7 linked regions of the Homo sapiens genome follow. The protein of the gene in region 2 interacts with the protein of the main gene of each other region in a biochemical or structural test. Each region holds a gene or a part of one and is shown on either strand. Other genes may lie near its edges. The genes, in order: RNF111, UBE2D2, UBE4B, UBR5, UBE3C, NEDD4 and SIAH2.

What was found.
Region 1: the proteins of UBE2D2 (region 2) and RNF111 form a complex in vitro, tested with the Homo sapiens proteins (6 studies listed by BioGRID).
Region 3: the proteins of UBE2D2 (region 2) and UBE4B form a complex in vitro, tested with the Homo sapiens proteins (6 studies listed by BioGRID and IntAct, with this or other methods).
Region 4: the proteins of UBE2D2 (region 2) and UBR5 form a complex in vitro, tested with the Homo sapiens proteins (12 studies listed by BioGRID, with this or other methods).
Region 5: the proteins of UBE2D2 (region 2) and UBE3C form a complex in vitro, tested with the Homo sapiens proteins (4 studies listed by BioGRID).
Region 6: the proteins of UBE2D2 (region 2) and NEDD4 form a complex in vitro, tested with the Homo sapiens proteins (19 studies listed by BioGRID, with this or other methods).
Region 7: the proteins of UBE2D2 (region 2) and SIAH2 form a complex in vitro, tested with the Homo sapiens proteins (4 studies listed by BioGRID).

The regions. Positions count from the first base shown.
Region 1 is NC_000015.10:59,028,877-59,032,998, forward strand, and holds part of RNF111 (E3 ubiquitin-protein ligase Arkadia), read left to right. Parts: intron 1-1,927; coding exon of another isoform or gene 1,928-1,946; coding exon 1,947-2,826; intron 2,827-4,122. UniProt on the Homo sapiens protein: E3 ubiquitin-protein ligase. Required for mesoderm patterning during embryonic development. Acts as an enhancer of the transcriptional responses of the SMAD2/SMAD3 effectors, which are activated downstream of BMP.
Region 2 is NC_000005.10:139,616,726-139,620,847, reverse strand, and holds part of UBE2D2 (ubiquitin-conjugating enzyme E2 D2), read right to left. Parts: intron 1-4,122.
Region 3 is NC_000001.11:10,035,777-10,039,898, forward strand, and holds part of UBE4B (ubiquitin conjugation factor E4 B), read left to right. Parts: intron 1-4,122. UniProt on the Homo sapiens protein: Ubiquitin-protein ligase that probably functions as an E3 ligase in conjunction with specific E1 and E2 ligases. May also function as an E4 ligase mediating the assembly of polyubiquitin chains on substrates ubiquitinated by another E3 ubiquitin ligase.
Region 4 is NC_000008.11:102,294,001-102,298,122, reverse strand, and holds part of UBR5 (E3 ubiquitin-protein ligase UBR5), read left to right. Parts: intron 1-516; coding exon 517-665; intron 666-1,138; coding exon 1,139-1,230; intron 1,231-2,340; coding exon 2,341-2,487; intron 2,488-2,590; coding exon 2,591-2,709; intron 2,710-2,792; coding exon 2,793-2,919; intron 2,920-3,011; coding exon 3,012-3,141; intron 3,142-4,007; coding exon 4,008-4,122. UniProt on the Homo sapiens protein: E3 ubiquitin-protein ligase involved in different protein quality control pathways in the cytoplasm and nucleus. Mainly acts as a ubiquitin chain elongator that extends pre-ubiquitinated substrates.
Region 5 is NC_000007.14:157,176,745-157,180,866, forward strand, and holds part of UBE3C (ubiquitin-protein ligase E3C), read left to right. Parts: intron 1-1,945; coding exon 1,946-2,103; intron 2,104-4,122. UniProt on the Homo sapiens protein: E3 ubiquitin-protein ligase that specifically catalyzes 'Lys-29'- and 'Lys-48'-linked polyubiquitin chains.
Region 6 is NC_000015.10:55,986,962-55,991,083, reverse strand, and holds part of NEDD4 (E3 ubiquitin-protein ligase NEDD4), read left to right. Parts: intron 1-4,122. UniProt on the Homo sapiens protein: E3 ubiquitin-protein ligase which accepts ubiquitin from an E2 ubiquitin-conjugating enzyme in the form of a thioester and then directly transfers the ubiquitin to targeted substrates. Specifically ubiquitinates 'Lys-63' in target proteins.
Region 7 is NC_000003.12:150,752,954-150,757,075, reverse strand, and holds part of SIAH2 (E3 ubiquitin-protein ligase SIAH2), read left to right. Parts: intron 1-4,122. UniProt on the Homo sapiens protein: E3 ubiquitin-protein ligase that mediates ubiquitination and subsequent proteasomal degradation of target proteins.

The sequences.
Region 1 (4,122 bases), on a different chromosome or scaffold from region 2:
TCAAGCGATTCTCATGCTTCAGCCTCCCAAGTAGCTGGGATTACAGTCAGTGCGCCACTATCCTGGCTAATTTTTGTATTTTTAGTAGAGATGGGGTTTCACCATGTTGGCCAGGCTGATCTCGAACTCCTGGCCTCCAGTGATCCGCCCGCCTTGGCCTCCCAAAGTGGTGGGATTACAGACATGAGCCACCGCGCCCAGCTTGTATTTAATTTTTGAGGATCTGCTAGACCGCTTCCCAAAGTAGCTTGTATCATTTTACATTTCCATCAGCAATATATGAGGGTTCCAATGTTTTTTTTTTATGCATCCTCTCTAACACTTGTTATTACCTGTGTTCTTTATTACAGCCATCCTGTTTGGCCCCATTCAACTCTTAGATCACATGTACCTGTGTTTTATCATTGTGACTTCTGTGTTCTTGCCTTTAATTAAAGTGATCCTTGTCTGACTGGCTGCCTTCTGTAATTTGCTCATTGCCATGCTCATGTTCACTCATCTTTGTATTCCTGGTTTATCACTGATCCTGCTGAACTACAGATAGCGCGTGATGGCTGATCTTGGATACAGCACTGCCTGTGCTTGTGAATAAGAATAAAAGAAGATAGTGGTTTTGATAGCTTTCTGTAGGAATAGGTCATTCTATGCCTTAATTATTGTCATTTGTTCTGATAGTAAAGTTATATACTATAGTAACATGGGAGACCTGTAAGATTATATATTTCTGTAACCCATTTGTAGAGAGGGAAAATACTTGCTTACTAAACAGCTGTTGTACTCGCTTTTTAGGAACTGGTTTCAAAATGTATTTTATGGGCAAAACAAATCTGTGGTGTCAGAAGTTACAATAGTGGTTAACAGTTTGGTGGGCTGTAGTAATGGGAAGAAGATTTCTAGGGTGCTGGTTATGTTGTTTATCTGTGTGCCAGTTACATAGAGGTGTTCATTTTTTTAGTGTTCATTCATCTATAAACTTAGAATATGTGTGTATGCTATACTTAATAAAAACTTGTTAAAAATATGTTAACATTGTTTATTCATGTTTTGCACTAGTAAAGCTCTTCATTTGTCACATTTACTGCCTTTCTGATTAATATATTTCATTTTGAGTCATGATATTTACTATTACATTATTTTCATATGTACATTGCATTGATGTAAATGCTTTAAATTCAGATCTCTTTTTGGCAGCTCGTAATTTAAGATGTTGAATGATTTAGATAGATTAGCTGTACAAAGTTTGATTTTATGTTCTGCTGTATTGTTTATTTAACTGAATGATCTTCAGCAGCCCACAGTCTTGGCTCTAATCTTTTTGTATTTAAAACTGAAATGCAGTAGTTGTGTCTACTATCAGGAGAATTCAGATTCTCATTAGAGAATTAATAGAGTAGTATGAAGGAAAAAAAATAGAAAAGAGAAGCTTATATTCATTAGCTCATTATTAATAATATCAATCTAATGTAGTAACCATCTAGATGTACAGAAACATTTAATAATAACCACTTAAAAATGTCATACCAGGAGTAAAACATGTTGACTAATTAGTCTTTTGAATTCGAATCCTTTTATTTATATTTCACTGAAATAGGTTTTGAAGTAATTGTTTGATTTGACCAAATATGTTTTGTTGCTGAAGGTAGTGAGATATGCAATAAGATCAGTTTTTGGTTAATAGAAGTTTTTAAGTAGGCTTATGCTCTATATCTACTGTATTTCTAAAAATTGGATGCATGAGTAGAGTGACCAGAGAAAAACGTTTTATAAGAATAGTAAAATAATTCATAACAGACATTTTGTGTACTGATGAGGAAAAGACAGTTCTGCCTTTATAAGGGATCTTCTTGGTGGAATTTGAGAACTCTTCAATTAAATAGTATAATAAAACACATTAAAAATCTTTTAAATATCTAATTTTGTCTTCTAGGCTTTCCTTAAAGTTTCCCATGTCTCAATGGACTCCTGAATATAACGAGCTCTACACCTTAAAAGTGGATATGAAGAGTGAGATTCCTTCTGATGCACCAAAGACACAGGAGAGTCTGAAAGGGATCCTTTTGCATCCAGAGCCCATTGGGGCAGCCAAAAGTTTTCCTGCAGGAGTTGAGATGATTAATAGTAAAGTGGGGAATGAATTCTCTCACCTGTGTGATGATTCTCAAAAGCAAGAGAAGGAAATGAATGGTAACCAGCAAGAACAAGAAAAAAGTCTCGTTGTGAGGAAAAAACGCAAAAGCCAGCAGGCTGGCCCTTCGTATGTGCAGAATTGTGTTAAAGAAAACCAGGGAATATTAGGACTGAGGCAACACCTAGGGACACCAAGTGATGAAGATAATGATTCCTCTTTTAGTGATTGTCTTTCTTCTCCTTCATCTAGTCTGCATTTTGGAGATTCTGATACTGTGACTTCAGATGAGGATAAAGAAGTCTCTGTAAGACATTCCCAGACCATTTTGAATGCTAAAAGTAGAAGCCATAGTGCACGGTCTCATAAGTGGCCTCGGACTGAGACAGAATCTGTATCGGGATTGTTAATGAAAAGACCCTGTTTACATGGCAGTTCGTTACGGAGACTTCCATGCAGAAAGAGATTTGTAAAAAATAATTCCTCACAGAGGACACAGAAACAAAAAGAGAGGATATTAATGCAGAGGAAGAAACGAGAAGTGTTAGCTCGAAGAAAATATGCCTTGCTACCTAGTTCTAGTAGTTCCAGTGAGAATGACCTCAGCAGTGAATCCTCTTCTAGCTCATCAACTGAAGGAGAAGAAGATTTGTTTGTTTCTGCCAGTGAAAACCACCAAAACAATCCAGCTGTTCCCTCAGGTAAAAATGTTTAAGCTGAGTAAAACATGGAACCTATTGCATTGCATTTGTGCTTAATTTTTTGTTTGTGTCTTACTGATTTTATTTAAAGGGACTATCAGGTTCTATTAACTTTTATTTTTAAGTCATATAAATTACCAATTGCAGTATTAAACCATGACTCTAATGCTAAGATAAAAATTTAAAAAATTTCTAGTGACAAAAATAAGTCAGAGTTTTTTGGGAGAATAACCCTTCATTACTTTTTTTTTTCTGAAACAGAGTCTCACTTTGTCACCCAGGCTGGAGTGCAGTGGCGCAATCTCGGCTCACTGCAACCTCCGCCTCCTGGGTTCAAGCAATTCTCCTGCGTCAGCCTCCCAAGTAGCCAGGATTACAGGTGCCCACCACCATGCCCAGCTAATTTTTGTATTTTTAGTGGAGACGGGGTTTCACTATGTTGAACAGGCTAGTCTTGAGCTCCTGATCTCAAATTATCTGCCCACCTCAGCCTCCCAAAGTGATGGGATTACAGGCATGAGCCACTGTACCTGGCCTCATTTATTACATTTTATACATATTAGATTATATTTTATGTATGTTCTTCATTTATGGTACACATTTTTTTCCTTGTGTTTCTTTAATATGCTTGACTGTTATGAATACTTTTTCAGCTACCTGTATGATGGATTCAGCCATAGTAAGAACAGTTCTAGTCACTAAAAAAGACTGGTTAATTTTTTTTCCTTTGTTTTTTTGAGGCAGCATCTGGCTTTGTTGCTCAGGCTGGAGTATAGTGATGCAGTCTTGGTTCACTGCAACCTTCACCTCCTGGGCTGAAGCCGTCCTCCCACGTCAGCGCCTCAAGTAGCTGGGACTACAGGCCCACACCACCACACCTGGCTTATTTTTGTATTTTTTGTAGAGATGGGTTTTGCCAAGTTGCCCAGGTTGGTCTTGAACTCCTTAGCTCAGGCGATCCACCTGCCTTGGGCTCTCAATATTTTTTCTTTAAGTACTATATTCTTGTTGTTTGCTGTTATCATGTTCTTTATAGCTGAAAAGTAATTTCAAGTAACTTTTATTCTAATACTAGGACCCAGAGACTTTTAGTCTCGACAGTGCATATGATACATCAATTAAAATTGGGTAGGGACTATTTCCTATCAGTGCTCTTGAGCCTGTGTGCTCTTGCTCATGCGTGCTGACTCTCTCTCTCTCTCTCACACACACAGTAAATGTGATATTTAAGTAGAATAAGTTTATTTGCAGACAGTCCTGAAATGTATGTTCCATGTATACAAACCATCCTAAGAT
Region 2 (4,122 bases):
CTAATAGAGCTCAGCCATCTTTCTTTTCTCTAATAGGTGTTCTGTACCAAGAGATAATAACTCTCAGCCCATTTTACTCCCAACACATAAATTCAGCAGGGAAAGGATTCGCTCATATTCCTACCAAATCTATCCTATAGAGATCAAGGGCTTCTGAGAAGTAAAGAAATAGTTGGCATGCCCTATTCAGTTTGGTAACAAAAATGCTATTTCCTTGCCTTAAGAGTATATGAAAAGTTTTTTTAAAAAATCAGGAGAGATGTTTTCTGACTCTTCATTCCTGTTACCCACAATTCTGGCAGCTGGCATTCCAAAAACATTTTCCTATTGTCAGGTGTCATCACCTGAAGCCCTCTTCAAGCATAGAACATTCTAACATCAATTAGGAAAGACTTCATGTATTTCCTGGAAATGACAACAGGGAAGTTAGAAATTTTTGAATGTTCCTTTAACTTATTCTTCTAAATATTCTAATAAGTCAACTTTAAAGGACAGGTTTTAAAGAAAGGGCTTTTCTTTCTTTCCAGGAAAGGAGAGTACTGGCTATCTGGACCTTGTGAAAAGATTTTTAGTACACTACTTAGCTTCTTGATTTCATGAAGAATTCATTTTGGTTTCTAATATACTGATATGGTTTGGATCTGTGTCCCCACACAAATCTCATGTTCAACTGTAATCCCCAACGTTGGAGGTGGGGCCTGGTGGGAGGCGACTGGATTATGGGGGTGTATCCTTCATGAATGGTTTAGCACGACCCCTTTGGTGCTGTTCTTGTGATAGAGTTCTCATGAGATCTGGCTGTTTAACAGTGTGTGGCACCTCCCCCATCTCTCTCTTGGTCCTGCTACTGCCATGTGAGACAGGTGGCTCCCCCTTTGCCTTCTGCCATGAGTAAAAGCTCCCGAGGACTCCGCAGAAGCAGATGCTGCCATGCTTTCTGTATAGCCCACAGAACTGTGAGCCAATTAAACCTCCTTTTTTTTTGAGACGGAGTTTCACTCTTGTTGCCCAGGCTGGAGTGCAATGGCGCGATCCCAGCTTCCTGCAACCTCCGCCTCCCGGGTTCAAGCGATTCTCCCGCCTCAGCCTCCCAAGTAGCTGGGATTACAGGCATGCACCACCAAGCCAGGCTAATTTTTGTATTTTTGGTAGAGATGGGGTTTCTCCATGTTGGTCAGGCTGGTCTCAAACTCCCGACCTCAGTGATCTGCGCATCTCGGCCTCCCAAAGTGCTGGGATTACAAGAGTGAGCCACCGCACCTGGCAAAACCCTTTTCTTTATAAATTATCCAGTCTCAGGTATTTCTTTATAGCAGTGCAAGAATGGACTGATACATATACTATACCTTCTTCTGTAAAGATAGTAACTCTTATTTCTATAACCTGTATAGTCTCTTCACTGAACTTTTACCTATATATATTCTTCATCAGTATTACTTTTTTTTTTTTTTTGAGACAGACTCTTGCTCTGTTGCCCAGGCTGGAGCACAGTGGTGTGATGTTGGCTCACTGCAACCTCTCCCTCCCAGGTTCAAGTGATTCTTGTGCCTCAGCCTCCCGAGTAGTTGGGACTATAGACACACACCACCCTGCCCTGCTAATTTTTGTATTATTGGTAGAAATCAGGTTTCACTATGTTGGCCAGGCTGTTCTTAAACTCCTGACCTCAAGTGATCCACCTTCCTTGGCCTCTCAAAGTGGATTACAGTCATGAGCCACTGCGCCTGGCCAGTATTACTTTTTCACTAGTGTTACAGCAACAGTTACTTTCACTTCTAAAAACATATAATCAAATGGCTTTATGGCACACTTATCTGCTTCCCTTCAGTTTTTTTCAGTGTTTTTGTTTTTGTTTTTTAAATATTTAGGTCCCCATCACGGACCTTCAAAGTAGAGTGAATACTGGGTCAAAATTTCTGTCCTTGAAGACAGACTATATGTTAAAGGAATAATATCATATACAGGATTAAGGCATTTCATAGAACTACTTGCCCATACATTCAATTTACAAAAAGGGACTCATTAAAACCTTAAATCTGAGACAGTTAATACAATCAAATTCAACAAAATGGCACTGCAACTATTTTAAAGGATAGCTATCCAGATAGAGAGAACCTAACAAATCAGACTTGTAACAGTCCTTATCATTTGGAATAGCTGAAAAAAAATCAACGCTAGGCAAGGGGAAGAACAAAAAGAGGTATGGCAATAATTTCAGCTATCTTGTGTCTCCAACACCTCACCCCACCAAACACACACCTCTCACACAATTCTACTTATCTTGGTCCCATTACTAGATTTACATCTCTATTGCTATTTGGTGAAGGAAGTGCAACCAATGGGACCCTCACCAGGCCAGGCACAGGTCCACAAACACTTTCTCAAGTAGCTCTTGAATTGTAAGGGGGCCTACCAAAAGAAAAGGGGACACTTCTCTAAAAAACTATTTCATTAAAGTTGTAATAACTTTAAAAAAATGTGGTTCTCTGGCATCCTGTTTTTATTTCTGCCTGGGACTCCAAAAATTTTAAATTAATGTCTCAGAGTTTTGTTTGCTTTAAAAAATTAATTTGTGGCCAGGAGCAGTGGCTCACACCTGTAATCCCAGCACTTTGGGAGGCTGAGGCGGGCGGATCACCTGAGGTTGGGAGTTCGAGACCAGCCTGACCAACATGGAGAAACTCCGTCTCTACTAAAAATACAAAATTATCTGGGCGTGGTGGTACATGCCCTATAATCCCAGCTGCTCAGAAGGCTGAGGCAGGAGAATGGCTTGAACCCGGGAGGTGGAGGTTGTGGTGAGCCGAGATTGCGCCACTGCACTCCAGCCTGGGCAACAAAAGTGAAACTCCTTCTCAAAAAAAAACAAATAATAATAATAATAATTTTTTTTTAAGATTGAGTCTTGACATCCAAGTGATAACATGACAAATACCCAACACTTTTGACAACTGTGCCTTTATCCCCAGTTTTTGGAGTACTTACAAGGAACCAGTTAACTGTCTGTTTTTGCTTCTTTAATCTTCGTAACAACAATGAAATATGTATTATTGTTCCTTTTCTACAGATGAAAAAACTGAGGAATACAGGGGCCAATGTGTCTCTAGCCTCATTTAATAAGAGGTGGATCTGAGATCTGAACACAGGCAATTGGATCTAGAATCTATGTTCTTTACCATGAAACTATGTTGCTTCCTGTCTAAATACATGCATTAAACAAATGGTAAATTATAAGCAGATAATTTCTACTTAATGGTTCAAATGGTAAATTATAAGCAGATAATTTCTACTAAAAATACAAAAATTAGCCAGGCGTGGTGGTGGGTGCCTGTAATCCCAGCTACTTGGGAGGCTGAGGCAGGAGAATTGCTTGAACCCGGGAGGCGGAGGTTGCAGTCAGTCAAGATCACACCATTGCACTCCAGCCTGGGCAACAAGAGCGAAACTCCCTCTCAAAAAAAAAAAAAAAAAAAAAAATCACACACCACATTTCACCACACAAATACCAAAACTAACATTGCTTGTCTATTTCTGGACACTCAACATACTTTTATATGTAACTCTTGTTACAGTGTATATGCCTTTTTTCTTTTTTCTGCTTTTCTCAAGCACAGTATTTTCCTATTTTCACAATATTTGTAAAGATCAATACTTTTTTTTTTTTGGAGACAAAGTCTCCCTCTGTCACCCAGGCTAGAGTGCAATGGTACCATCTTGACTCACTGCAACCTCCGTCTCCCGGGTTCAAGTGATTCTCCCGCCTCAGCCTCCTGAGTAGTTGGGACTACAGGCACGCACCATCACACCTGGCTAATTTTTTGTATTTTTAGTAAAGATGGGGTTTTGCCATGTTGGCCAAGCTGGTCTCGAACTCCTGGTCTCAAGTCATCTGCCCATCTCAGCCTCATAAAGTTCTGGGATTACAGGCATGAACCACTATGCCTGGCCAGGGTCAATACTCTTTTAAATGCATGTGCTGGAACCGATCTATTTTTTCCTCTACTGTAAGTAACCTCCAATTTTCAGAACTAAATCACAATGTCACAAATGTACTTGTATACAAAGTTTTTTCAGCATTTGGGATTGTTTTCTTAGTATAAATAAATGAAACTAGAATTATTG
Region 3 (4,122 bases), on a different chromosome or scaffold from region 2:
CTGTTGCCCAGGCTAGAGTGCAGTGGCGCGATCTCAGCTCACTGCAAAGCTCCGCTTCCCGGGTTCACGCCATTCTCCTGCCTCAGCCTCCCGAGTAGCTGGGACTACAGGCGCCCGCCACCACGCCCGGCTAATTTTTTGTGTTTTTAGTAGAGACGGGGTTTCACCGTGTTAGCCCAGGATGGTCTCAATCTCCTGACCTCGTGATCCGCCCGCCTCGGCCTTCCAAAGTGCTGGGATTACAGGTGTGAGCCACCGCGCCCGGCCGAGGTAGTTTTTTAGTAGTCCTTTACTCCTATAAATTACTTTTTTTTTTTTTTTTTGATGATCTGTTAATAGTCCTTGGTTTAGAGGCTTTTGCATACTTGAGTTTTCACCAAAAAATTCTTTTCAAACCAGTGAGGCATTACAGACCAGTGAAGATATTGTATAATCTAAAATGTGTCTCTTCACTTTCATCAGTCCTTGAGGAAGGTGTAACTTTTTTTTGTGACCATATGAGGAACACATGTAACCTTTGTGGAAGAAATAGAATAAACTTTTTTCAAGGTCAACAGAATATTAAAATAAATGAAAAAAATTAAATTCACTAATACAGGATCAATGTAAAATTATCTTCAACAAATTAGTTGTCCAGAACACAAAGGGCTGGTTCAATAACTGTTAATTTTACTCTCAGCAGAACCTAGAACAAATAATATTCGTTTGTTTTTAATTTAAAAAATCTTTTTTTTTTTTGTAGAGACGGGGGTCTTGCCATGTTTCCCAGGATGGTCTCAAACTCCTGACCTCAAGCGATCCTCCCACTTCAGCCTCCCAAAGTGGGAGCCAGACAAATAGTTATTTTGGGAAAAATATCTTTGAAGTTTTTCTTTTTAATTCAATTAAAAATTTTTGAGGTTAGGTAAGCAGTTCTCATGAGACATTTCCAAAGCTTTTGCCTTTGTATTGTTACTCTGTAGTTGAAAACTTGTGTCAGATATGGTAGGTGACATTGATTTGATTACAAAATAATACACTTATATTATTGAAACTTCAAGCTTATATTTCAGGGTTAAAACAGGCAAGGCGGTGATCTTTTAATCTAATTTAGGAAATTAGGTAAGGCAGAGTTTCATATTTTAACAAAATGAAAATGTATGATTATACAGTCCGTGAAAAAGGCTGGTATAACCAGACTGGTAGCTTTAGGAACTTTTAAATTATGTGCACTTTTTGGTCCCTGTCATAGATCACCTAGAATTCTTGTGCTTTTTAAATTTTTTTGTGAGACAGAGTTTCGCTCTTGTTGCCCAGGCTGGAGTGCAATGGCGCGATCTTGGCTCATTGCAACCTCTGCCTCCCGGGTTCAAGCGATTTTCCTGCGTCAGCCTCCCAAGTAGCTGGAATTACAGGCATGCGCCACCATACCCGGCTAATTTTGTATTTTTAGTAGCGACGGGGTTTCTCCATGTTGGTCAGGCTGGTCTTGAACTCCTGACCTCAGGTGATCTGCCTGCCTCGGCCTCCCAAAGTGCTGGGATTACAGGCATGAGCCACTGTGCCCGGTAGTCTTGTGCTTTTAAGTAGAGTACTTTAACTTCACTGTTGTTTGTTATTTATATAGTGTATTACAGTGAGTTCATTGCCCTATAGTTCACTGCCTATAGGTTCATTGCAGAACCATGACTAAGTTCATTCTCTTCAGGAACCTACATTCCAAGGCATCATTATTTACATTATATTAATTCTATAATCTACTCATGTGTTGTTTTTCGTATCTCAAGGTGGTGCTGTGAGTAGGTGGTGTGTTTATTTTTGAGATAGGGTCTGGCTCTATCGCCCAGTCTGGAATGCAATGGCATGATCTTGGCTCACTGCAACCTCTGCCTCCTGGGCTCAAGTGATCCTCCCACCTCAGCCTCCCAAGCTGAGACTACAGGCTCATGCCACCACACCTGGCCAATTTTTGTATTTTTTTCTAGAGACAGGGTTTCACCATGTTGCCCAGGCTGGTCTCAAACTCCTGGGCTCAAGTGATCCACCCGCCTTGGCCTCCCAAAGTGCTGAGATTACAGGCATGAGCCACCATGCCCAGCCAAGTAGGTGTTTTAAACTGTTTTTCGACAATGGTAATGAGATTGCATAAGTGATTTTTCTCTCCTAACTCTTCTTTATGACCTAGTTCATCTGCAAGATGGTTGGCTGGGATTCCGGGTGTGGTCAAGATTTTAGAAAGTGTTGGCCGGGCGCAGTGGCCCACGCCTGTAATCCCAGCGCTTTGGGAGGCCGAGGTGGGTGGATCACCTGAGTTCGGGAGTTCAAGACCAGCCTGTCCAACATGGAGAAACCCCATCTCTACTAAAAATACAAAATTAGCTGGGCGTGGTGGCACATGCCTGTGATCCGAGGTACTCAGGAGGCTGAGGCAGGAGAATTGCTTGAACCCGGGAGGCGGAGGTTGCAGTGGGCCGAGATCACACCACTACACTCCAGCCTGGGCAACAAGAGTGAAACTCCATCTCAAAAAAAAAAAAAAAAGATTTAGAAAGTGTTTTAAGTATTCCTTTCCAAATGCAGAATATGTGACCTTGGACTTTTTAGCAAGGTTCTGTAAGTGGAAGAAAATTGACATTAAACAACAGCCTTAGGAGCCTCTTCTGTGCCAGGCACTTGATAGCTGTTTCTCATTAGAGAAAACATTATAATCAAGCAGGTACTGTTTTCCTAATTTTACAAGTCAGGAAACTGGGATTCAGGTTAAGTAACTTGTCCATAGCGACCTGGCTTAGAAGTGATGGGGTTGGAATTCAAACCCAGTGCTCTGGACTCGAAAGTCCTCTTTATTCTACTGCTCAACAACTGACATAAATTCACCACAGCTTTTGTATCAACATCCTACGTAACACTGACCCACTCTGTTTTGATATACATAGTTTTTCTGTAGAAGTGCTGTTTTGCATGAATGCATTCATGATGTGATCAGGGCTTTTGGTACTGGTCCTCCCACTCCCAATTTTTTTTTTAAATGCCTGTCGCGTTAAAAATTTGGGAGTTGGGGCCGGGCGCGGTGGCTCACGCCTGTAATCCCAGCACTTCGGGAGGTCGAGGCAGGCGGATCACGTGAAACCCCGTCTCTACTAAAAATACAAAAATTTGCTGGGTGTGATGGTACGCACCTGTAATCCCAGCTACTCAGGAGGCTGAAGTAGGAGAATTGCTTAAACTCAGGAGACAGAGGTTGCAGTGAGCCGAGATTGCGCCACTGTACTCTAGCCTGGGAGGCAGAGCAAGACTCCATCAAAAAAACAAACAAACAAAAAAACACACACACAGAAAAACAAACAAAAAAGCAATTATAATTAAATTTGAGTAGAGGAGATAGATAGGAATCCAACAGTTATAGAATAGTGCCAGGTGCTATGGTGGAGGTATGCACAACTCACTTAAGAAACATGAGAAGGGACCCCGGGAGAGGCAGGGTCTTAGTGAAGACTTTCAAGAAAAAGTGATACTTAACGCTGAGTAGCAGTTGCCCTGGGAACTGGCTCGAAATTGGGGAGCTCAAGAAACAGCAGCAAGTAGTGTGACTGGAGAGGTGGGTTTTACCTCGGGTGTGTGGCAGGTACCTGATCTTGGAGGGCTGTCAGAAACGTTTAGGAGTTTGAACTTTCTTTTTGTTGTTGTTTTTTGGGACAGAATCTCTCTCTGTTGCCCAGGCTGGAGTGAAGTGGCATGATCTCGGCTCACTGCAGCCTCTGGTTCCCGGGTTCAAGTGATTCTCCTGCCTCAGCCTCCCAAGTAGCTGGGATTACAGGTGCATGCCACCATGCCCTGCTGATTTTTTTTTTTTTTTGTATTTTTAGTAAAGATGGGGTTTTACCATGTTGACTAGGCTGGTTTCAAACTCCTGACCTCAAGTGGCCCACCTGCCTCTGCCTGCCAAAGTGCTGGGATTACAGGCGTGAGCCACTGCACGTGGCTGAGTTTGAACTTTCTCTGTAAAATGCCTTTTAGGGATTTTAAGAGATTAGAAAGATGGGTGGCAAGGGAGTAAAGGGTAGTTTGGGAGAAGGTGGCTGCAGACTGCAAGACATATTAGGAGGCTGTTGTTGCTGTATAGGAGCGAGGCAGTGGAGTCCA
Region 4 (4,122 bases), on a different chromosome or scaffold from region 2:
ATAAGATGGATTACTGATAGAACCTCTTGGTAGTTAATTGGTGTTAAGTGATATAACTTTACAGAATAATAGACAGATGTCTTGTTATTTCTGACAGAATTCCTGCTAAATAGAAAGCATTAAGGAATATCAATTCTTACCTTCCAGCCTTTGAAAGATTAAAGTAGTTATCTTTTTAAAACACTGATAAATAGTTTATGAGATGGTCTATAATTTGCTAAATAGAGCCAGGAGTTGAGTCTTAACTGCCTGAAACAGAGCTAAGGATTCAGATGGCTGATGTATAGTGTGTTTGTATTGGCATCATATGTGGGTATGATGTAATTATGCTTTACTTTATATTGTTCCAGAGTTGGTTAGATTTCTTTGCATGTCATCTTTGTATATCACTTTTTAAAATTGATATATAATTTCTGGTTTATATTGTGTGTATGCTAAGGCTTTCCAGTTGAAGAAAATGGATGGCTAATTAAGTCCTTTCCTGAAAGATGAACTGCTATGTTCTTACTTTTTTAGCTGAAATATCCTCAAGTGAAAAAGAGGAAGATGTATTCATGGGAATGGTTTGCCCATCAGGTACCAACCCTGATGACTCTCCTTTATATGTTTTATGTTGTAATGACACTTGCAGTTTTACATGGACTGGAGCAGAGCACATTAACCAGGTAAGTTATTTCTACATTTTCCTGTATTAATCATATCTTTGTGTCTTTTTTCGCTATGACTATCACTAGACTTACAGTTTTCAGCTTTGGAATTAAGTCTGATATGAAGAAAGTTGATTTAATTCCTAAGTAAATGAGGCAAAAGAGCTGATTGCTCAGTTAAATATGGCATACCATGAAAATTGGAAATTTTCACTGGGTAGTATAATCTGATCCACAAATCTTGATACAGATTTTATAACTACAATGCCTTTTTGGGGATGATACAAATTATTTTTTTCTACTGGTAATATTTCTATTTGTATATCATAAACTGTATATTTGCTGTAGCCCTTTATAAGTTCTAGTTTTCCAAAGCACATTAATTTTGTTTGTTGAGATTGAATTGTTCTAGAAAATACCAGAAATAATTATTATGATGAGATATATGCATACTTATAATTATTCCTTTAAAAGTACACTCTTAATTTTAGGATATTTTTGAGTGTCGAACTTGTGGCTTGCTGGAGTCACTGTGTTGTTGTACGGAATGTGCAAGGGTTTGTCATAAAGGTCATGATTGCAAGTGAGTACAATTCTAGTTTTCTTTAGTTTAATATTATAAGCTGTTTAGATTTATATTGCTGTATGGAAATAATCTGTACTAAGTCATGTTTTACTTCAGAAAGCATGAGGTTACTTACGTTTCCCTTGTTTAAGTCAGTTTATGTATAATAGTGTGATTCTTGATTTAAAGTATACTGTGAAATGTTTGGTTTCTTTGCTAGTTCAAACATTGCCCTCCTTAAATAAAAGTAGGTGATTATACATTGTAACTAGGATCAGATTAGTCTTTTGAGAAGTATATCTACAGAATGTTCCTGAGTGTATTATGCAGCGGAGGTCTCAGGTCCCCTGTAGTGGGGTATACTAGGAGAAAATTGCCATAGGCCTAGAGGGAATCATGGTGAATGTTTAGACTGTGTCTTAAACTAAATGCAACAGTCTTTCATTCAGCAACAGTTACCACAGCTAGTTCTGTTGGTTTTCAGAGACCTGAGAAGCAATGAAATACCTAGCACTAACATCTGTGGTGTTTTAGGATTATGGATAGGGACTTCAGTATAAATGGCTACAAATGTTATAATAGAGAATTGGACTGTAAAAACCATCTACCGTACCATTAAGTAATTGTATAGGACAAATGAAAAATTTTAATAGATATTAAAAGAATTCTGGTTGGTATTTTTTGTTTTCCTTATTTTAAGTACCTAAAGGTGTGATAATCTGTTGTTATTGATTGTTTTCCAAGTGTACTAGATGCCAGGGTGGTGGTGAATAGTCCTGACAGTGTTCACATCCCTATCAGAAGCAAGAAATATCTGCCCATAGGGTTACAGGGTTCATTAGGTCATATAGGAGGACCACTTGAACAGGACTGGGAATTAGGGAAGAGATTCCAAAAGTGATTGTACCTTAGAGTACCTCTTCTCATAGGAATTCTGTGTTGCTTTATAGATGTCATTACTACCAAGTAATCCTTCTTGTTATATAAGCTTTGACAGTTATACTTTGCATTTAGAAATTAACAAGGGCTCTCTCTGGTTTCAGTGAGTTATACCTTCATAATGTCAACATAAACCTTTGTATGTTTAAAAAATTTCAGTTTTTGTACTTGTGTATAAATTCTCTATAGACTCAAACGGACATCACCAACAGCCTACTGTGATTGTTGGGAGAAATGTAAATGTAAAACTCTTATTGCTGGACAGAAATCTGCTCGTCTTGATCTACTTTATCGCCTGCTCACTGCTACTAATCTGGTTACTCTGCCAAACAGCAGGCAAGTGGGATTTTTAGAACATACAGTAAGTTAAATCAAAAGAGCGCAGCACAGCTGAGTAGCTTTTCAGCCTCCCTCCTCACGACAACATTCTGTTTTGCAGGGGAGAGCACCTCTTACTATTCTTAGTACAGACAGTCGCAAGGCAGACGGTGGAGCATTGTCAATACAGGCCACCTCGAATCAGGGAAGATCGTAACCGAAAAACAGCCAGTCCTGAAGGTGAGTTAATTAGACATTTATGACACTTGTGGGAAGCAATATGTTTTATTTTTGTTTTGGTCACTATTTCTTTTTCATTTTAGATTCAGATATGCCAGATCATGATTTAGAGCCTCCAAGATTTGCCCAGCTTGCATTGGAGCGTGTTCTACAGGACTGGAATGCCTTGAAATCTATGATTATGTTTGGGTCGCAGGAGAATAAAGACCCGTACGTATTCATTAAAACCTTTTTAGATTTATGTATTTCCTACGTTAGTGTAGACCTTTTACAGTTCATTCTGTCTTTCGTTTCTCCTCAAGTCTTAGTGCCAGCAGTAGAATAGGCCATCTTTTGCCAGAAGAGCAAGTATACCTCAATCAGCAAAGTGGCACAATTCGGCTGGACTGTTTCACTCATTGCCTTATAGTTAAGTGTACAGCAGATATTTTGGTAAGTTCTTTGAATGTGTATTACAAGTACATGAAAAGTATGTTTTTCAAGTACTCTTCTTTGCTGTGAAACTAGAAAAGAATTTAAACCTTAAGATCCAGTGCGAATGAGGTTATGGTAATAACACACTCAGATAGGGATGGGGTGGCATTGCATCGTTCCTTTCTCTGGAAAACATAAAACTATCAGTGCCCTCAGAACCTGTCATAAATAAATAATTTACGATGTGAGAAAAATAAAGGCATGTCACAGAATAATGTAAAATTTAAAAACAGAAAAATATCAGCCTAATACTAGTGTAATCTTGAATCAAATTATAGCCTGACCACTTACTGGAATATGATGCAGCAATTTAAAAATAAATCGTATTGTAAATAACGTAAAAAAAAAAACCAAACAACCAAACTGTGAAAATTGGGTGTTCTCTGTAGCTAACATTTATACAAGAAGCTGCACACAGAAAAGAGACTAGAAAGTAATAATGGTTCCATGAGGGAGATGGGATTATGAATTTATTCATATAAATATTTGAGTCTGCTTTGCTGTTTTGGAAAGTGCCCCAGACTGAGTTTATGTTTTCTTCTTCTGATTTCATATATTTGGTATTGTTCTTCTAAATATTAGTTGATATACCAAGGACTGTGGGACAAAAAATAAGAAATCGTACATTTAGGACTCACTGTATGTCAAGCACATTGGCAGGTATATTTCATAAACTGACCTTGTAAATGTTTTGGTTAAATTTGTTTTGAGATTTTATTATAAAATGTTAATACTTAAAAAATGTTAGAACTTATAACTTTATGAATGTCTAAACATCTTATGAAGTATCTTAACATTAATAGAGTGAATATAATTTTTTAAAGCTTTTAGATACTCTACTAGGTACACTAGTGAAAGAACTCCAAAACAAATATACACCTGGACGTAGAGAAGAAGCTATTGCTGTGACAATGAGGTTTCTACGTTCAGTGGCAAGAG
Region 5 (4,122 bases), on a different chromosome or scaffold from region 2:
ATTTGTATTTTGAGAGATCTTTGTTTTCTGTGAGGTCACAAAGCCTTAAGTGCTCTCTCTGCCCCAGGCCTGGGGCTGTTTTCTCTAAGGAGCACTGATTCTTTTTGATGAGAAATGGAATTTTAACAAAATGTAAATGTTAGAAATTGTACTTCAAGTGTATGTTAGTAAGTCGACAGTCTTATCTGCCACGTGCCAGAACATTGAATTTTTCTTTTTCTGTAAATGTGGCCTTCCAGAACCACCTGCAGCTCCTTTTATGACTAATCACATACATATTTTTTAATGCCGTTGAACATTTCTGAAGTCATGGAATCACTGGGTCACATAGTAGTTATATATTTCACTTTAGAAGAAACTACCAAACTTAGGACAGCAGCATAGGAGAGGCGCAGTTCCTCCATATCCTGAACCCTTGGTATTGACATTTGTCAAAACCCAGCCATTCTGATGGGTGTGTAGCTGTATTTTATTGTGATTGGAATTTGTATTTCCTGGATTACTAATGATGACGGGTGTTTCTCAGGAGCATACTGGTCACTCAGATGGCTCTTTTTCAAGAGTCTGTTCAAATCTTTTACTTCATTTTTTAAGGTGGGTTGTCTCTTGACAATATGGATATCCTTTTCCCGTCCAAGGCTGTCCCGATAAACCTGGAGCTACATCCTATGTTGTCTCTCACACGAGGCACCGTTCCAGCACTTCTCTCTGTTGCATTATCAGGTTTACCTCTCACATGGGATTATCAGCACACATGCTGCTGACTTTTCCAGGTTGACAAGAGGCTCTCCCACCGCCCGCCGCTGCCCTTTGCGTCCCAGCGGCTTGTTATGTGTAGCCCCGCTCCTCCTGCACTCGTACACCCCTCGAGAGACACCAGTGTGGTGCTGAGGGGAAAGTTGTGAAAAGGGCAAAGACAAAACAAGGTCTGGCTGGGTGTCCTGCCCAGCCTGCCCGCTGGGTCCTCACCCCCTGTCTCTCCTGGGCTTTGCGGCTGTTGAGACAGAAGGCAGCCTGCGGTAAGCGGATAAGCCGTGTAGACACACCCCACCCAGAACCCTGCACGTTATTCCCCTCCTGGCAGGGCAGAAGGCTTTTGTCACATAGAGAAGTTAGTTTCAGTGAGGCATTGAAACAGCCTCCTGGGTCCCTCATTAAAGGTGATGTGTGGTCAGATGGATTCTGTTTTTTTTTTTTTTTAAGAAAAAGGAAAAACAGCTGTAAAATACCTTGTGAAAGCAACAGGAGAAATCTAAAAATAAGTTCGGTGTTAGACAAAGTTTTTGATAGAAAAAAGGATTGGGGTGGGGGGAAAGAGGGAGGAGTGGACTAGAGACAGCCAAGAAGAAACTTTCGGGAGTGGCAGATGTGCTCTGTGTCTTGATTGGTGCGGCCTGCCCGACTGCTTGTGCTGCCCTCTCTAAACGGATAGTTAACCTGCAGTTCTTCTCATAGTAAGAAGGGAAGCCTCAGTCAAAATGAGAGTTGACTTAGGACCAGAAATATATCATTGTTCTATTTGGGGGATATTGCAGGCGTGGAAAGTCTCAAAAGCATCTTTAAGGAGATGAGATGCACTGTTAAAGAGATTCGTATCTGAGTTTAATTAAATGCAGCTTCTTGGTACAATTCATGGATTATAATACTTCTTACAGTGTTTTGTAATCTTTAATTTTTCGTGTTCATTTCTCCACTGTCCATTTTTCTTGTCTGTGAACTTAGTGCCAGCATACCGTTTGGCACATAACGAGAATTCTTTTAAAAACTGTCTGAATGACTGAATGTTAGTTGGATGATTTCCCTGTCTATCTGTAAGATGTCCCTATTTTCAGAGATAATCTTGTACTGGAATAGTTTCTTAACCATTGTCACTGAGAGTAACTTGGGGAAACTGGTGACATTTTGCCATCCTGTAAGTGTGTGAATACTTTTTTCATTTTTACAGGTTGCTGCAAAACTGTAATGATGACAGTTTGAATGTTGCACTTCCAATGAGAATGCTTGAAGTATTTTCGTCTGAGAATACTTACTTGCCTGTTTTACAAGATGCTAGCTATGTGGTGTCAGTGATTGAACAAATTTTGCACTACATGATTCACAATGGTAAGTAGTAGGCAGGATCAGAACTGTGGCTCAGCATCCTGATGGGGAGTGAGCAGAGGCCAGCCTGCTGCTGTGAGCCTGTGCCCTCAGTCTCAATGTCAGAGCGGTACTGGTGTCCCAGACGCCTTGTGCTCCATCCACAGGTGCCCACCAGAGTCCCAGATTCCAAAATCTGTCCTTGGCTCCACCCACTCTGAAAATTCAGAAACATGCTACTCTCTTTGCCTTTTTCTTTTGCTTGGAAGTGAACCAAAATTGACATATGCTTTCATCAGTTGTCCCGTCATCCAAGATTGGTGTCTGCAGTGCAGCTGCCGGTCCTTCACCTGACCAGGAAGGGCTCTTACCACCTCCTGGTCATTCTGAGTGAATGGGAAAGGTAATGCCACCAATGTATGAGTTGAACATCACTCCAAGAGCCTTATGAAAAAGTAAATTTTGTTAAATGATTTTTCTTCCAAGAGTGAGGTCCTTTCACATTAGTTCAGTAGAAGAGAATAGGATATTTAGTTTGAATTTTCTAACTCAGTGCTAAAGTTTTAATACATTGATAATGCTCCTAAAATGACTGCATCGTAGAAGCTATACTGAACTGCATCTGAAACCCTTGAGGACACATTAGTGACACTTTCTGGAGAAAAAGGATGAAATAAACATGATTTTTAAAAATTTTATGAAGTGAGCAGTATAAATCCTAACACAAAAGAACCTTTGGTCTCGACATCCTCATAGGTAGAAACCCAAGCACTTCAGGACTCCTGGGCTCGAGAAGTATTTGTCAGCATTAAAAATGTGCGTGAGACTAGTTGTGAAGGGAGGTCTGGAGAGCCGTGGCTGCAGACAGAATTATAAGCAGCTGTGCTTTCCTTCACCTGAAGTCATAGTCTGGGTTACATCTAACGGACTTGAAGTCTGGACCACTTGGTCCTCTTGGTCCTCTGTCAAAACTACAGAAATTAAACGCATACTCATTTCAGCCTTGCTGCTTGGCGTGTTACTATTTTTTAGACTCCTTAGTTTGTTGAAAACTTAGGGAAACAGTATTCCGAGTTAATTAAAAGTAAACTGAAAGTTGTGGAATTTGATCTTTTTAAAAACTAATAATTAAAAGTGGTTCATTGTGTTAGTTGACATATATACTGTTTTAAGACTAAGCGTTTGAGAATTTGTATTTGTTTTCTAAAATTGTAAGGAAGATATTTAAGAAATATGCATTATTTGAAATGTGTCCCAATATACGAAATGCTTAAAAATCTTACACAGAAACTGCCGCTTCTAGCATCTTCTGTGGTACAGCAGTTGTTTACTTTCTAACAGTCGATAAAATTTTAGCCTTTTAAATTATAGTATTACCATTATTTGTATTGTTATTGCACATTCTGTGCCATGAAGCTTTTTAACATTTGCAACAGAACCTTTGTCATGTTGTCAGTCTATTCAGTAAGTACATTGTTAGTTATGTTAGTCACTTTTTTAAAAAAGTCTCTGTGTATTTTTTAAAATTCTTGATGTATTTTTATCTTTTTAGTTTCATAGCAAAAGAGCTTTCAAGCTTTCATATGAGTTTCACTAGTTATCAGTATACACTAGGTTAGACTTGGGGTAGTTACAAAGTAGGTCTAATGATAAAGTACTGAGTATGCATTGTTTGGTGATCTTCACTCAAATACGAAGCTGTGTAGGACTGTTTCAAAAACTAGCCCATGCAGATGGATTGTTTTTAATGTGCTACCAAATACGCTTGTATATGATGAGATACTCAAAAATTGCACCTGAACCTTCTTATTCTATAAAAATGGAGTAAATGATTCTGAAAGAATATATGATTTGGATCATTCTTGATACCCAGAGTTATGTTCACTGCCTCCCACCCAGAGTTCCTATCAGAAGCGTAGGCTGGATATTTTAAGAGGTTCTGAAAGTTGTTTCAGTTTACGTATAAGCTGCCTTTAAACAGTTAACTTCTTCAGTTCCCAGATTGTGGTCTCCAAATACATCATCTCCTCTAAAAGGAGCTTA
Region 6 (4,122 bases), on a different chromosome or scaffold from region 2:
AATTTAATCAGTATATAGTGAATAGTCGCTGAGTCAGTGTCTGAGCATATTAGCACTGAAGTATGCTAAAATGTAGATCATAATACCTTTCTCTCACTTTTCAGTGAGTTTTGGCTCTTCTTCCACATATAAGTGACTTATAGTAAGAGATCACCCTGGCTGCATGTGCAGGATTTTACCTTTAAAGTGTTAACAAACAAAGGAGGAAGTGTAGTATAATTTATACCAGATTTGCTCTGGTCACTTGAGATTCACAGTAGAGAATAACATGCACTGATCTTTATTGGAGAGCAGTGTGGTGGATGCGGGGACTGGAATTGAGCATCACTTCCCACCTCCTTCCCATGCACCTCCCTGTGATATGGAGGTGGGAAAACTAAACACTGTTTCCCACACTCCATTGAAATTAATGGACTGGATCCAAAGTAGGCTCCCCAGTTAAGTGCACTTACTTGAGATTTGCAGAGTGGAAATGAGGTGGAGCATATTGTTTTGTTTCTTTGGCTTTTTCTGCTGATAAGCACAGTCATGTAAACATCTAAATTTTCTGCGAAAGTATTCCAGTATCTGGTAACTTGCTTTGTACATATTGATAGGAAGTCACCGAAGTAGTGGTGGTAGTGGCTTCCAGACGTCAAGATTGATTATATTCTTGAAGTCATCAGTTCTGGTGATGACTCCTGATCATCTACCTTTCTGACTGGGAGAGGTAGTAGCTTCCTGGATGGGTCAGTTCTGCCATGTTTCTGATCTTCTAGAACTGCAGTCCCCAACTGTTTTGGCACCAGGGACCGGTTTCATGGAAGATAGTTTTTCCATGGACCGGGGATGCGGTCCAGTGGTTTCAGGATGATTCAAGCACATTACATGTATGGTGCACTCTACTTCTATTATGATTACATTGTGATATGTAATGAAGTAATTATACAGCTCACCGTAATGTAGAATTAGTGGGAGCCCTGAGCTTGTTTTCCTGCAACTAGATGGTCCCAAGTGTGGGTGACGGTAATGGGAGACAGGGAGACAGTGACAAATCATCAGGCATTAGATTCTTATAAGGGGTACACAACCTAGATCGCTTGCATGGACAGTTCACAATAGGGTTCATGCTCTTATGAGAATCTAATGCCGCTGCTGATCTGACAGGCAGCAGAGCTCCGGAGGTAATGTGATCGGTGAGGAGTGGCTGTAAATACAGATGAAGCTTTGCTCACTGGCCTGCCACTCACCTCCTGCTGTGTGGCTGGTTCCTAAGGTTGGGGACCCCTGCTCTAGAAGTCCAGCCTAGCACCTACTCTTCCAGCTCTTCCAAAAATTTTGTAAGCATCTAATCCCCTGTATTAGCTTCTTTCTTCTTAAAGCATCTAGAATGATTTCTGTTTCCTATAAGAAAGGCTGACTGAAGCAAGGAAAAGAAGGAAGGAAATAAAGAGGAAAGAGTTCAGAGTCTCCGCTATCGGTATGGAGAGTGCAGTTTGCACATACAGAATAATAGATGCCCCTGGTGGCAGCAGCCACAACAGTGCATAAGTAGCAGGGTAAGAAGGGCATATTCTGATACTTCTGGACCCACTAAGGCTGAGCAGAAACTGACCCTTACTCAGTCTGGGAACAAACTTCCCAAACCTTTATGTACTACACACAAAGGAGGAGAAGCATAGGTTAAGCAGCAGCTGTATTAGTAATTTCTCCCAATCTTTCATGTATTGTTTTTGCCATTAGTGCTTTTTTGCAACTCTTTAATTCCAGGATCATTGTAAAGTATTTTTCATGGAGCAGGGACTAAAGAAGTGAATAAATATAGTGTATTTTTAAAATAATTTATTTTTAAATTATGTATTTACTTTTGAGACGGAGTCTTGCTCTGTCACACAGGCTGGAGTGCAATGGCGTGATCTCAGCTCACTGCACCCTCTGCCTACCAGGTTCCAGCGATTTTCCTGCATCACCCTCCAGGGTAGCTGGGATTATAGGCACGCACCACCACGCCCAGCTAATTTTTGTATTTTTGGTAGAGATGGGGTTTTACCATGTTGGCCAGGCTGGTCTCGAACTCCTGACCTCAGATGATCCGCCTGCCTCGGCCTTCCAAAGTGCTGGGATTATAGGCGTGAGGCACCGCGCCCGTCCTATTTTAAAATTATTTTAAACCATCAGAAAAGTTGAAAGTACAACACAAAGAGCTCCAGTATTCTTCTCATACAGATTCTGCAACTGTTAACCTTTTCACTGCAATTGTTCCATCACCTTTTTTTGCCATTTTCATTAATCTTTTTCTGAACCACTTGAGAGCAAGCTGCAGACACAATGCCCCATCATCTTTAAATACTCTAGTGTGTATTTTTCTAAAACAAGAATACTTTCCTGCATAACAACCATACCCCCTTCCAAGCTAGGAAATGGACACTGATACAACAATGCCATTCAATCCACAGATACCATCCAAATTTTGATAAATGTTACTAATAATTTCTCTTTTTCCTTTTCTGGTCTAAGAACCTATCTGGGAACATATATTGCTTTTACGTGGCATGTCTTTGCAGTCTCTTCTAATCTGTAACATTTCCTCAGTTTTTCTTTTTTTTTTTTTTTTTTTAATTTTTTTTTTTATTATACTCTAAGTTTTAGTGTACATGTGCACATTGCGCAGGTTAGTTACATATGTATACATGTGCCATGCTGGTGTGCTGCACCCACTAACGTGTCATCTAGCATTAGGTATATCTCCCAATGCTATCCCTCCCCCCTCCCCCGACCCCACCACAGTCCCCAGAGTGTGATATTCCCCTTCCTGTGTCCAAGTGATCTCATTGTTCAATTCCCACCTATGAGTGAGAATATGCGGTGTTTGGTTTTTTGTTCTTGCGATAGTTTACTGAGAATGATGGTTTCCAATTTCATCCATGTCCCTACAAAGGACATGAACTCATCATTTTTTATGGCTGCATAGTATTCCATGGTGTATATGTGCCACATTTTCTTAATCCAGTCTATCATTGTTGGACATTTGGGTTGGTTCCAAGTCTTTGCTATTGTGAATAGTGCCGCAATAAACATACGTGTGCAATGACTTTCTTCACAGAATTGGAAAAAACTACTTTAAAGTTCATATGGAACCAAAAAAGAGCCCGCATCGCCAAGTCAATCCTAAGCCAAAAGAACAAAGCTGGAGGCATCACACTACCTGACTTCAAACTATACTACAAGGCTACAGTAACCAAAACAGCATGGTACTGGTACCAAAACAGAGATATAGATCAATGGAACAGAACAGAGCCCTCAGAAATAATGCCACATATCTACAACTATCTGATCTTTGACAAACCTGAGAAAAACAAGCAATGGGGAAAGGATTCCCTATTTAATAAATGGTGCTGGGAAAACTGGCTAGCCATATGTAGAAAGCTGAAACTGGATCCCTTCCTTACACCTTATACAAAAATCAATTCAAGATGGATTAAAGATTTAAACGTTAGACCTAAAACCATAAAAACCCTAGAAGAAAACCTAGGCATTACCATTCAGGACATAGGCGTGGGCAAGGACTTCATGTCCAAAACACCAAAAGCAATGGCAACAAAAGCCAAAATTGACAAATGGGATCTAATTAAACTAAAGAGCTTCTGCACAGCAAAAGAAACTACCATCAGAGTGAACAGGCAACCTACAACATGGGAGAAAATTTTCGCAACCTACTCATCTGACAAAGGGCTAATATCCAGAATCTACAATGAACTCAAACAAATTTACAAGAAAAAAACAAACAACCCCATCAAAAAGTGGGCGAAGGACATGAACAGACACTTCTCAAAAGAAGACATTTATGCAGCCAAAAAACACATGAAGAAATGCTCATCATCACTGGCCATCAGAGAAATGCAAATCAAAACCACTATGAGATATCATCTCACACCAGTTAGAATGGCAATCATTAAAAAGTCAGGAAACAACAGGTGCTGGAGAGGATGTGGAGAAATAGGAACACTTTTACACTGTTGGTGGGACTGTAAACTAGTTCAACCATTGTGGAAGTCAGTGTGGCGATTCCTCAGGGATCTAGAACTAGAAATACCATTTGACCCAGCCATCCCATTACTGGGTATATACCCAAAGGACTATAAA
Region 7 (4,122 bases), on a different chromosome or scaffold from region 2:
AGGGCTTTTGCTTCACCATATGGAATGGAATATGGGGGGTATTGGGGTGGTTGGAAGGTTGCAATGGGGGATCACCTGGAAGCAGGAAGCACAAGCCGATTAGCCAAAAATACTTTCAAAAATTTCTTCCTAACCCCCAGAATTCTCCTAACACAAAACTATTTACTTTGGAAGTTGTCCCTGAAGTCCTCACTACTGCCTGACATGGGCAAGGTTGGCCCATAAAAGCACAGAGTGAACTGGCAAGGACCAGAGTCCACATACATTAACTCCGGGGCTCAAGATTTTAAAGAACAAAATTGATAATACACCTTTCGTTGTAGTTTACTTTTTGTATAAAGCAGAAGCATTAGAATACTATATGGCAGTACTTAAGCTTAATGGTAATTCCACACATAACTGGCCAAAGATTTTTCACAGGTCACCATGACCTGGAACTAGAGTAAATAGTTATCAGTGAAAGTTGAGCCTTAGTATAACCAGAACAGAGGCTTACCAAAAGTTACAGCAGGTCTGGCCTATAAAATACCAGCCCAAGATTGGGATAGACTCTCCCGTTCTGTGGTAGAGCTGTTTTTTGAAGCCCCATTAAAAAGTACTGTATACATGAATATAGTGAGGCTTCACTGTAAAATGTCTTAAGCATCAGATTTTGCTTCTGACAAAATTTGTGAGACATGGCCGTTCTTATTCAAACCCATAAGGTCCTCACTCCTTGAAAGGGGCACGTAGCAGATACACATTTGCTAAACTGTGTACCAGTGCCAGCATTTGGAGCCACTGTGTATTGCTGGCGAGTTTTTCAGGACATGATCATACACAGGGTATTTGAATGTGGTTCCACGCTGGACATCCTGAAAAGGAAAATAAGAAAGTCTTCCTGATCAAATGTATCTTTATTTTAAGATTCGGGGTATCCTTTTAAGGCTGATGAAGGATACTGAAATGCTCTACAGAATTTCATCAGCTTTGCCCTAGATTGCAAAACTGTTGTTTTCCTCATTTCCAGTTTGGTAAAGATTTTATGTAATGATTTTTAGACTGTGTAGCATCTATGGAATAAAAGGGTTTTCCTGTTCTCAGTTTTTGCCCACAGGTGATATACAGATGGATGAAAAATATTCCTGGTCAGGTGTGGTGGCTCATGCCTGTAATCCCAGCATTTTGGGAGGCTGAGGAGGGCAGATCATGAGGTCAGGAGTTCAAGACCAGCCTGACCACCATGGTGAAACCCCGTCTCTACTAAAAATACAAAATTTGTGCCAGGCACAGTGGCTCACACCTGTAATCCCAACACTTGGGAGGCCGAGGCGGGCAGATCACCTGAGATTGGGAGTTCGAGACCAGCCTGACCAACATGGAGTAACCCTGTCTCTACTAAAAATAAAAAATTAGCCAGGCGTGGTGGCGCATGCCTGTAATCCCAGCTACTTGGGAGGCTGAGAGGCAGGAGAATCACTTGAACCCAGGAGGCGGAGGTTGTGGTGAGCTGAGATCGCACCATTGCACTCCAGCCTGGGCAACAAGAGTGAAACTCCGTCTCAAAAAATAAAAAAAATAAATAAATAAATACAAAAATTAGCTGGGCATGGTGGCTCGTGTCTATACTCCCAGCTACTCAGAGGGCTGAGGTGGGAGGATCGCTTGAGCCCAGGAGGTCCAGGCTGCAGTGAGCTGAGATCTTGCCAATACCCTCCAGCCTGGGTGACAGAGTGAGACCCTGTCTCAAAAAAAAAAAAAAAAAAAAAAAAAAGGGAAGAAAAGAAAAAGAAAAATATTCTTTTGCTAATGCGCCGGCCTATGCACTGCTTTAAAATTTTGAATCAGCAAAGATAGTATCTTTGGGTCCCTTTTACCCCCAGGATCCCTCTAACTCTGGCAGTTTTGAGGGCAGCCCCTCATCTGGCCTGGTCCAAATCCCAACTCCAGCCCCACTGTGACTGGCTGGTGACCTCTCCAAGCCTCAAGGTTGCCTTGAGGACCAAACACACTAATAATTCATGCAAAGTGCCTGACACAGCCCAGGCACTAAATAAATGTGCTCAGTTAGAAGCTAACAGAAACTAAATGGCCGATGTCTGAGGTCAGGTTCATGCATAAACTTGAAAAAAAGGAATCATTCCTATTTTTTCCCATAGATTTTCCCAATGAGCTTCCCTTCCCTACTCTTAATCATATAGCATTTTCATAGAGCTGTGTAAGTTGGCCCTTGTATTGGTTTTTCAGTGATGAGGATTTTTTTTCATTTCTTTAAATTTTTTGAGAGGGAAAACTGGTTAGATTAAGCAGCATTTTAAATTATATGTATTATATTTTGTGTATTTTTACATATTATGTTTTCTAAAGTTATGATTATTTTTAAATGTAGAACATATAGAAAATAGTATAAAATTAAAATCTCCTATAATCTCCCTCACCTAAAGATAACCACTATACCATTTTGCATACATCCTTGCAAACTTATTTCTACATCGGTGGAGTTTTTCTTTAAAAACAAAAACAAAAACAAAACAAGTGAGATGGTGATATGGTTTGGGTCTATGTCCCCATCAAGTCTCATGTTCAATTGTAATCCCCAATGTTGGAGGTGGGGCCTGGGGCAGGTGGTTGGATCTTGGGGGTGGATTTCTCATGAATGGCTTAGCACTATCCTCTTGGTGCTGTTCTCATGATAGTGAGTCTTATGAGATCTGGTTATTTAAGAAGTGTGAAGCACCTCTCCCACCCTTGCTCCTGCTCTTGCCATGTGAGATGCCTCACTCCCCCTTTGCCTTCCACCATGATTGGAAGCTTTCTGAGGCCTCCCTAGAAGCAGAAGCCACTATGCTTCCTGTACAGCTTGCAGAACCGTGAGCCAATTAAACCTCTTTTCTTTATAACTTACTCAGTCTCAAGTATTTCTTTGTAGCAATTTGAGAATAGAACAATACAGGTGAGGAATCCTATTGTCTACACTGTTTCATAATCTGCTTCTTTATCTAACACATTCTTTATCTAACACATCGTGACTGCTTTTCTACAGTGATAAATATTCTTTAGGATCATATTTAATGGCCACATATTGCAGTTCTATAACAGTACCAGAGTTATTTAATCAGGCTCCTATTTGTGGTCATTTAAATTCTCTTTTCTTACTGAGATTTTTTTTTTAAAGCACTGCTATAACCAAATCTTTGTACACAAAAATATAGTTATTTCCTAAAGTTAAATTCCTTGAAGTTGGATGGTAGAGCCCAAGGGTATATGCAGAAATCTCAGTGTTTTTTTTTTGTTTTTTGTTTCGAGACAGGGTCTAGTTCTGTCATCCAAGCTGGAGTGCAGTGGCATAATCACAGCTCACTGCAGCCTCAACCTCCTGGGCTCAGGGGATCCTCCCACCTTAGCCTCTTGAGTGGCTGGGATTACAGGCACACACCATCAGGCTTGGCTAATGTTTGTATTTTTTGTAGGAACAGGGTTTCACCATGTTGCCCAGGCTGGTCTTGAACACCTGAGCTCAAGTGATTCGGCTTCAGCTTCCTGAAGTGGCAGGATTACAGGCATGAGCCGCCACACCCGGCCTGAGAAATTGAAGCTTTTTGATAGTAGAACCAAATTGTTTTCTCCCTTAGAATGGTTTACAGTTGAATGTCCATTTCTTCCCAGCAGCACCGACATTGGGTGTTACCTTTTGGTTTTCTTAATGCCACAGCCTGCTTTTTCTCCCTGGTGCAGTGTCAGGCCAGAGTTGGCCGCTGCTGACCCCACCAACTTTACATCATACTCACTCTTGCCTTGGAATCTCCTGCAGTTCCAGGCCCTCTCCTTCCCACAACCCATCTGCCTAGCCAGTTCTTGCCTCTGCTCACCCCTCTCGTCTTTCTGAAACTCTCCTAAGTCTACTGGTGGAGACAGATGTGCCAATAGGGCAGAGCCCGTCTGAAGTACTAGGAGCCGAAAGGAGTCCGAAGACCTTGCTGCCATGGTGGCACCAGCTGCATGTTGAAGGTGCGCAGCGGTTTGCCTGTGAAGAAAGAAGGGATGGAAGCTCATAAGGAGGCTGTGTGGGAGGCCAGCAAAGTTGCTTGTGAAGGATGTTGCTTGCCTTGCTTATAGATGGCCCGAGCTAGGCACCCATGCTCG